2 separate regions of the Homo sapiens genome follow, and region 1 is linked to region 2. The links come from fine-mapping of genetic effects on gene expression. A gene starts in region 2. The other region holds a variant in brackets. All regions are shown on one strand. Distances are from middle to middle.

Region 1 (4,399 bases), 65 kb before region 2:
GTGAATCTGCATTTTTACATAAACAATAGGGCAAAGGAAGCAATCAGATATGCATTTGTCTCAGGTGAGTCTCAGAGGGATGACTTTGAGTTCTGTCTGTCCTTTGTCCACAGTGAATTTCCTTGTGGACGAGGATCTGTGGCAAATTGCGAGGGAGGTATGTAGCTATGTTATTTAGGAATAAAATGGGAGGCAGGTTTGCCTGACATAGCTCCCAGTTTGATTTTTCCCTTGGCTTAGTGATTTATTTTCCTTTCACATAACCACAGAGGAGAATGCCATGGAGAGGGGCAATAACAGGCACTGAACATCAGGAATGCTGGCAGGCGAGTCAGATATGGCTCCAAGTCTGTTCAGTGGTCTCCACAAGGCTTCCACAAAGGCCAAAGGTTTCATGCTGACGTATGATAACAAACACAAGAGAACCAACAGCCTGGGCAAATTAAATCTACGGTTTTTTATGAGCTAGTCCATAATGAAAAGTCTCTCACAGACTGAAAAAATGTTCCATATCAATCGAATCACAATATTTAAGAAAGCCATGACCAATTTGCTTAAGACTGCTCCTTCAGCTGCCCCTCTTCAGCATCCCTCCCAGAGGAAGAAAAAGCATTAGACAAAAAGATTCAGATCAACACTGCCCCCCTTCAAGAGAGTCATGGCACACCAGACACAAAGCAGTGAATCACCTGTCATTTGTTTCCAGTTCTTCCTCATCAGCCCACAGTCATACATCTGGCATCAAATAGTATAGCTTTTACTTTTTTCCTAGTAGAATCAGTGTCATTCAATTGCAAGTTGAAAGTTAGGAAAATGGAAAGTTCAATTTTTCTACAAATAAGCAAGGATAACTTTGACAGGCGCTGCAACACTCTCTGTCATGGTTTCAACAGATCTCTTTCCTACCTCCTACTTTAAGTAAAAGTTAAATAAAGAGTCTCCCTGTATGTGCCAGTTTCATATACACGCAAGAACATACAGGAAGTTAGTATATGATAAAGATGACATTTTAAAATTGGTGGGAAATAGATCAAATAGGGAAAAGTAAATCCCTTAAGGGATAAGTAAATGGTGTTTGGGAAACAGATTAGGCATTTGAGAGGGGAAATTTGCATTCATAACTCAAGTTCAGACTTTGTAACAAAACAATTAAGCCTTTCAAAACATATCATGAAAACTAGAAACCACAAAGACTAATACATTTCATTATATTTAAAATGACATATGACATATATATAAAATACATAATAGGCAAAAATGGTTAATCTCAAATATACAAAAAGTTATTAATACTAGGAAGAATGAACAGTCAATAGAAAAACAGTCAAAGAACATGAAAAGGGCTGGGCGCGGTGGCTCACGCCTGTAATCCCAGCACTTTGGGAGGCTGAGGCAGGCGGATCACGAGGTCAGGTGATCGAGACCATCCTGGCTAACACGGTGAAACCCTGTCTCTACTAAAAATACAAAAAATTAGCGGGGCGGGTGCCTGTAGTCCCAGCTACTCAGGAGGCTGAGGCAGGAGAATGGCGTGAACCCAGGAGGCGGAGCTTGCAGTGAGCCGAGATCGCACCACTGCACTCCAGCCTGGGCGACAGAGCGAGACTCCGTCGCAAAAAAAAAAAAAAAAAAAAAAAGAACATGAAAAGGAAGTCACACGCTGACACACACAAACACACACACACATACACTTCCACAAATGCCCAGTCAACAGATGAAAGCTCAATCAACATTAAACAGGACATGGTTTTTGCCCATTGGAATTAGCAATACAATGTTATCAAGTATGGAAATA[T/C]TATTGTGCATTATGAATGGAAGAGTAACCAAAAGAGACTTTCTGGAAAGCGGTTCATGCTTTTACACAGCTATTCCACTTACAGGTTTTTACCCTAAGGAGAAATTACCCATGTGCTGAAAGACATATGCACCAGAGTGTTCACCTATTATTTATAATGTTAAAGACATATAAACCAAATGTCAATAATTGCAAGGCTAGGTTAAATAAACCATGATATACACATTCTCTTGTATGTGCAGCTATTAAAAATTATGTAGTCCTATATTTGATGCCATGGAAAGATCCTTATTTGAAGAAATGCAGATTATAGAACATTATGTTTATGATCCTATTTATATAAAAGTGTATTCATATCTATCCACATATGCTCATATTTAGAGACGACCAGAAGATTGTTTACAAAACTGTTAACATTAGTTATTTCTGGGTTCTGGCACTGCAGGTGATCTTTACTTGTCTGCACTTTCTTGTATCATTCCAGTTTTGAAGGGGTTTATTTTTTCAATGAGTATGTGTCATTTTTACTAAAACAAAGATATTTTTTCTAAAACGATGCTGGTTTCATCAAACAAGGATATCAAAAACAAATAAAAAGATGCTTCTCTGCTTTAAGAACAAATCATAGGAATAATCATAAAGTAGTTGAGGCTTTTCTCCAGTTTCCTTCATATTACATGCTCAGCTGGTCACTCTGGAATTGTCACTCTCAACTGATGAACTGCAGGCTCTCAACTGGTGGTCAATCAACTCCTATTGAAGACATTAATAGATGTTAGTGTTTAGTTGGTGATATGGTTTGACTGTGTTCCCACAATTCTCATGTGTTGTGGGAGGAACCTGGTGGGAGGTAATTGAATCACGGAGGTGGGTCTTTCCTGTGCTGTTCTCGTGACAGTGAATAAGTCTTGTGGGAGCTGATGGTTTTTTGGTTTTTGCTTTTTGGGTTTCTTTTTTTTTTTTTTTTTTTTGAGATGCAGTCTCGCTCTGTCACCAGGATGGAGTGCAATGGCACAATCTCGGTTCAGTGCAACTTCCACCTCCCGGGTTCAAGCAATTCTCCTACCTCAGCCTCTGGAGTAGCTGGGATTACAGGCACACACCACCATGCCTGGCTAATTTTTGTATTTTTTTTTCAGTAGAGACAGGGTTTCACCATGTTGGCCAGGCTGGTCTTGAGCTCCTGACAATCAGGTGATCTGCCTGCATTGGCCTCCCAAAGTGCTAGGATTACAGCTCGTGAGCCACTGGTTTTATAAGGGGGAGTTTCCCTGCACAAGCTCTCGCTTTGCTTGCTGCCATCCATGTAAGACATGACTTGCTCCTTCTTGCCTTCCACCATGATTGAGGTCTCCCCAGCCATGTGGAACTGTGAGTCCATTAAAACTCTTTCCTCTATAAATTACCCAGTCTCAGGTATGTCTTTATTAGCAGTGTGAAAATGGACTAATATAATTGGCAACAAATGAACCAGGAAGCTTAGGCCACTCCTGGCCCTTTCAATACTTCTCCCAACTTGCTAAACTTAGTGATTTCTGTGTTACTGTATTAGTGCTGACTAGACTCTAGGGCACCCAACAGTCATGACTTCTTTAGTTAATGGCAATTGTTTCGCAGATTTACATAGCTATGAGTACCATAATGTTAATCACAACTACTCAATGCTGAGTCTCTTATCCCTAGACATTTGTTTATAGCTTACTTCCAATTTGTGTTTATATCTTCACAAATTGGATGTGATGGTGCTTTTTTCAGTCCTGCTCAAAATGTTATCTGTGGACTGATGCCAGTCCACAAACAGATCACAAATCTGCAAGTGATAAACAGATATTTTAAAATATTTAGAAACTTCTACAGCAGTTTGAAAGAGCAATTTTATCCTGTAGAATCAAAAATAAATGAATAAAAGAATTGAGGCTTTTCTGTGCTTTTTGAAAATTTCACTTTTCTAGTAATTGTTTTTTATAAAAGAATCAGTCCATTATAGAATTTTAATTTCCAATTTAAAAAAAATGGCCCTTATTTTTAAAAACTCATCTTTCCTCTCAGTTTAAGAGCTGGCTTATTATAACTTATGCACAGAAGCATAAATATGGTAGTGTATTAAATTTCCTAACTCTGCCATCAAAAATTAGCAGCAATTTCATAGCCTAAAACAACACAAACGTATTATCTCACAGTTCTGTAGGGCAGGCATCTGGATAGGCTTGGCTGGTTTCTCTGCTTAATTTCACAAAACCAAAATCATGGAGTCAGTGAGCTGTGCTCTCATCAGGAGGCTGTGAGAAGAACCTACCTCAGAATGCATTCAGATGGCTAGCAAAAGCCAGCTCCTTGCACTTGTAGGACTGAGACCCCCACATCCTTGCTCGCTGTCAGCTAACAGCCACACTCAGCTAAAGGTCTCTCTCCAGTCCTTGCACACAAACCCTACATCTCAGAAGCAGCAACAGGGCATTGAATTGTTGCCTCCAGCTGTGGATTATTCTTTGCTTTTAAGGGTTCATGTGATTAGACTGGGCCTGCAGGGAAATCCAGGATAATCTCCCCTATTTTATGCCACCATGCCTGGTTTTTGTATTTTTAGTAGAGATGGGGTTTCAC
Region 2 (4,399 bases):
AAGATACCAAGAAATTGGAGGAGGGTCAGAGAACTTAAACAAATGTTTAAAACAGGCCGGGTGCGGTGGCTCAAGCTTGTAATCCCAGCACTTTAGGAGGCCGAGGCGGGAGGATCACGAGGTCAGGAGATCGAGACCGTCCTGGCTAACACGGTGAAACCCCGTCTTTACTAAAAATACAAAAAATTAGCCGGACGTGGTGGCAGGCGCCTGCAGTCCCAGCTACTAGGGAGGCTGAGGCAGGAGAATGGCATGAACCCGGGAGGCGGAGCTTGCAGTGAGCCAAGATCGCGCCACTGCACTCCAGCCTGGGCGACAGAGCAAGACTCCGTCTCAAGGAAAAAAAAAAAAAAATGTGGAAAACAAATTGCTAAATTAAATGTGTGACCTTGAACGAGTTTCTTAAGACTCCGTACTTCTATGTCCTCATCTACAAAAGCAAAGGGTTGGACTAAGGTCCTTCCAAACTCTAGAGCTGCATTTCTTAATACCAGGGTAGAAGACAGCAACTGTTATAAAGAAAATAATATTGGAAATTTCCATAAGGAGAAATGAAGGCTTTTAAATGAACTTCCAAAAAGATAAAGATTTTGACTAGAATGAAAACGTATTTGTCACTAAATTCCCCATTTTCTAAAAACTAAATAGCACTCTTCTAAGATTCATAAGAAGGAAGTTCAAGGTCAAAAAGTCACTTCTATCGGGAAGCAAACTCACAGAACTCACTACCCCTAGGCTGAAAGTATGAACAACTTCAATAAAAATGAAAAAAAAAAAAAAAGGTAGGGGCGGGAGGGCCCTAAATCAATTCATACTATGACATGTATGAAGAGTTACTTCAGAAAAAAACCCAAAACTCTGGAATTGACTTAGGACACCAATAATGCCCTTCCACAGTTTTTTGTTGTCAAAGTTGGAAGGAAGATGTTTGTTTTCGAAGTTGTGGAGCCAACTCAAGTACACGGCTTTAGAACCAGACACCTCTGGGATTAAATCTCAGCTTTGATCTTACCTCCTATATGACCTAGTCCAAATTACTTGTTCTCTTAACCATAATATGTTCAACAATGATGCAGGTGTTGAATGACTTCCTCACAGTTGCTGAAAAACCTGAGAAACTACACGTAAAGCGCTTAGCACATTACCTGGCACACATCAAATATTCAAAACAAGGCCAGTAACTATTATGCTATAGCCTATCCAGAAATAAGGCTATACAAAAGATTATTTTCTTACCTCTCCAACTGGTTAGGTAGAAAACATAATCTTATTACTGCTATTAACAAGTAGAACAGTATACAACTACTTGGAGGAGAGGGGAAACTTCCCTACCTTGCCCCACAAAAGGCAAGTCAGTAAGCACCGCTGGTCCTCTGACATTCCCACCTATGACAGCTCCCAAGAAACACAAAAGTACTTTTGAAGGGCATTCCCCCCTGCCCAAAAAGGGGCGGCGCAAGTCTCAGCCCACCGTGCCAGACGCCGGAATGGCAGCAGAAAATGTCCTGACCCCCTCACCTCCACTCAGAGCCCACCTGCTCCCGCCCATCTCTTAGAAACTGCAGGAGCAGCCACGGCCGGGCCGCCGGGGATCCTCGCGGACTAAGGGCTGGGTCAGAGCCGCGCAAACATGGGCTCGCTCGTAGTCCTGGCGAGCAGCACTCCCAGGCAAGTCGCCCGAGGGCCTTGCAGGGCACCCAGAAAATGTCACTGCCGGCGAAGTGACCCCGAGCCGGGCCACGGGACCCCTCACACCTCACCCTTTCTCCTGCCGACCCTCGAGACGACAGCGGACTGGAAGGCATTACCTGAGCAGCAGCCCGCTGGGCCGTCCGAGGCCGGTGGTTCCGAAGGGTGGCCACGGCCACTAGCCTGCCGTAGAACATGGAGGCCGCCATTTCTGAGTCGGACCCCGTCCCCTCGGCGCCGCGCGCAGGCGCACAGGCGACAGGCGGCCCAAGGCGCAGCCTCTCTGCAGCGCTCACCTACGCCCCGCCTCGCGCCACCCGTTGGGGGCGGGGCCTCGGGTTAACACTGCAGCCGCTAGACCAGCTCCCTGGCGGGCGCGGAGCAAGCTTTGACCTTTGGAACTGGGCACCGCAGCCCCAATATCTGCCCTGCGGTCAGAGCAACCTGAACACTTCCTAGTGAATTGCAATGTAAAGGTGACCAGCGCCGCCACTTGGGTGATCTTAACTTCTCTCAGCCTCAGTTGCCTCATCTGTAAAATGTGTTTCATTCAAGAAATGATTACCCAGTGTCTACTTCGTGCTAAACAGCCTTGAGCCCTTGGCCTACAGCAATGAATAAAACCATTTGTGATGCTCAAAGAGAAGATGGTCGGTGTAACGCGCTTGTGATGCTCAAAGAGAAGATGGTCGGTGTCATGCGCTTCTGATGCTCAAAGAGATCGGTGTCACGCGCATCCGTGTGAAGACACCGCCAAACAGGGTGTGAGCAATAAGGCTGTTTATTTTAACTGGGTGCAGGCGGGCTGAGTCCGAAAAGAGAGTCAGCAAAGGGAGATAGGGGTGGGGCTGTTTTATAGGATTTGGATGGGTAGCGGAAAATTACAAAGGGGGTTTTTCTCTTACGGGCAGGGGCGGGGGTCACAAGGTGCTCAGTGGGGGAGGTTCTGAGCCAGGAGAAGGAATTTCACAAGGTTAATCACTCAGTTAAGGTGGGGCAGGAACAAATCACAATGGTGGAATGTCATCAGTTAAGGCAGGAACCGGCCAATTTCCCTTCTTTTGTGATTCTTCACTTGCTTCAGGCCATCTGGATGTACACGTGCAGGCTTGGGCTCAGAGGCCTGACAGTCGGCCACTAGTTACCAAAGCTGGTGGCAGGCTGGAGTCTCCAGGGAAGCTATTGATTGATTGATTGACTGATTGACAGGGTCTTGGTCTGTCACCCAGGCTGGAGTGCAGTGACGCGATCACAGCTCACTGCAGCCTCAACCTCCCATGCTCAAGGGATCCTCCCACCTCAGCCTCTGGAGTAGTTTGGGACCACAGATGTGTGTCACCAGGCTTGGTTGATTTTTTTATTTTATTTTTTTAGGGACAGAATCTCTCTATGTTGCCCAGGCTGGTCTCCAACTCGTGGGTTCAAGCGATCCTCCTGCCTCAGTCTCCCAAAGTGCTGGGATGACAGGTGTGGGCAACCACACCCAGCCAAGGATCTGGTTTTTGAAAAGATAAATAAATTTAACAAACCTCCAGCAAGACTGCAAAGAAAAAAGAAAAAGAGAAGACACAAATTACCAATGTGAGGAACATACCAGGGAATATAATTACAGAACCTTCAGACACCAAAAAGGAATGCCATAAATAACACCACATAACATAAATTTGACAACTTTGACAAGATGAGCGAATTCTTCAGAAGGCACAAATTACTACAAATAACCTAATATGAAAAGGTAATTTAAATAGTCCTCTAACTAGAGAAAATTGTAATTGTAATTTTTAAACTAAAAAAAAAAAAAACCTGAGATCTCCAGGCCCAAAAGCTTTCACTGATGAATTCTATAAAATGTTTACACAAGAATTAACACCAATTCCATACAGCCTCTTCCAGAAGATAGAAGAGGAAGGAACAGTTGCCAATGTACTGTATGAAGTTAGAATCACCCCACTACCAAAGCCAGCAAAAGACCGTACAAAAAGAAAAAAATACCAACACTTCTCATGAATATTGATGGAAAAATCCATAGCAAAATATTAGCAAATATAATTCAGAAATATATAAAAAGAATTGTACAATATGACCAAGTGGGATATATTCCAGAGATGTAAGTTTGTTTTAATATTTGAAAATATGTGTAATGCACTATATTAAGTTAGAAAAATCACATGATAATTTCGATCAAAACAAAAAAAGTAGCTGGGCACAATGGTTCATGCCTGTAATCCAAACACTTTGGGAGGCCGAGGTGGGAGGATTGCTTGAACCCAGGAGTTTGAGACCAAACTGGTTGGGCCACATAGCAAGACTTCATTTCTATAAATAATTTTAAAATTAGCCAGTCATGGTGGTGTACACCTGTGGTCCCAGCTACTCCAGAGACTGAGATGGGGGGGAAATCACTTGAGCCCAGGAGGTCCAGGCTGCAGTGAACCGTGATCGTGCCCCTGCACTCCAGCCTGAGTGACATAATGAGACCCCCATTACAAAAAAAAAAAAAAAACAGGCCAGGCATGGTAGCTCACGCCTGTAATCCCAGCACTTTGCGAGGCCGAGGCAGACAGATCATCTGAGGTCAGAAGTTTGAGACTAGCCTGACCAACACAGAGAAACCCCGTCTCTACTAAAAATACACAATTAGCTGGGTGTGGTGGCATGTGCCTGTAATTCCAGCTATTCAGGAGGCTGAGGCAGGAGAATCATTTGAACC

Evidence for each region. PIP is the estimated chance that this variant, and not a neighbour inherited with it, causes the effect.
Region 1: its variant is fine-mapped to the expression of SUCLA2 in whole blood (TOPMed, PIP 0.91).

Annotation. Positions count from the first base shown.
Region 1 is chr13:47,934,226-47,938,624 of GRCh38, forward strand. No RefSeq gene overlaps it. Among named protein-coding and RNA genes, the nearest start is that of LINC00562, 3.8 kb to the left of the region's middle. The variant T/C (reference allele first, on the strand shown) is at 1,796.
Region 2 is chr13:47,999,372-48,003,770 of GRCh38, forward strand. It overlaps SUCLA2 (succinate-CoA ligase ADP-forming subunit beta), which reads right to left and starts at 1,902. Exons shown (of 11, transcript NM_003850.3): 1 at 1,809-1,902. The coding sequence starts at 1,898. It overlaps SUCLA2-AS1 (SUCLA2 antisense RNA 1), which reads left to right and starts at 2,034. Exons shown (of 2, transcript NR_189308.1): 1 at 2,034-2,451; 2 at 3,064-3,320. RefSeq lists enhancers at 1,537-1,586, 1,607-1,656, 1,677-1,866, 2,243-3,442, 4,114-4,399 and a silencer at 1,987-2,096.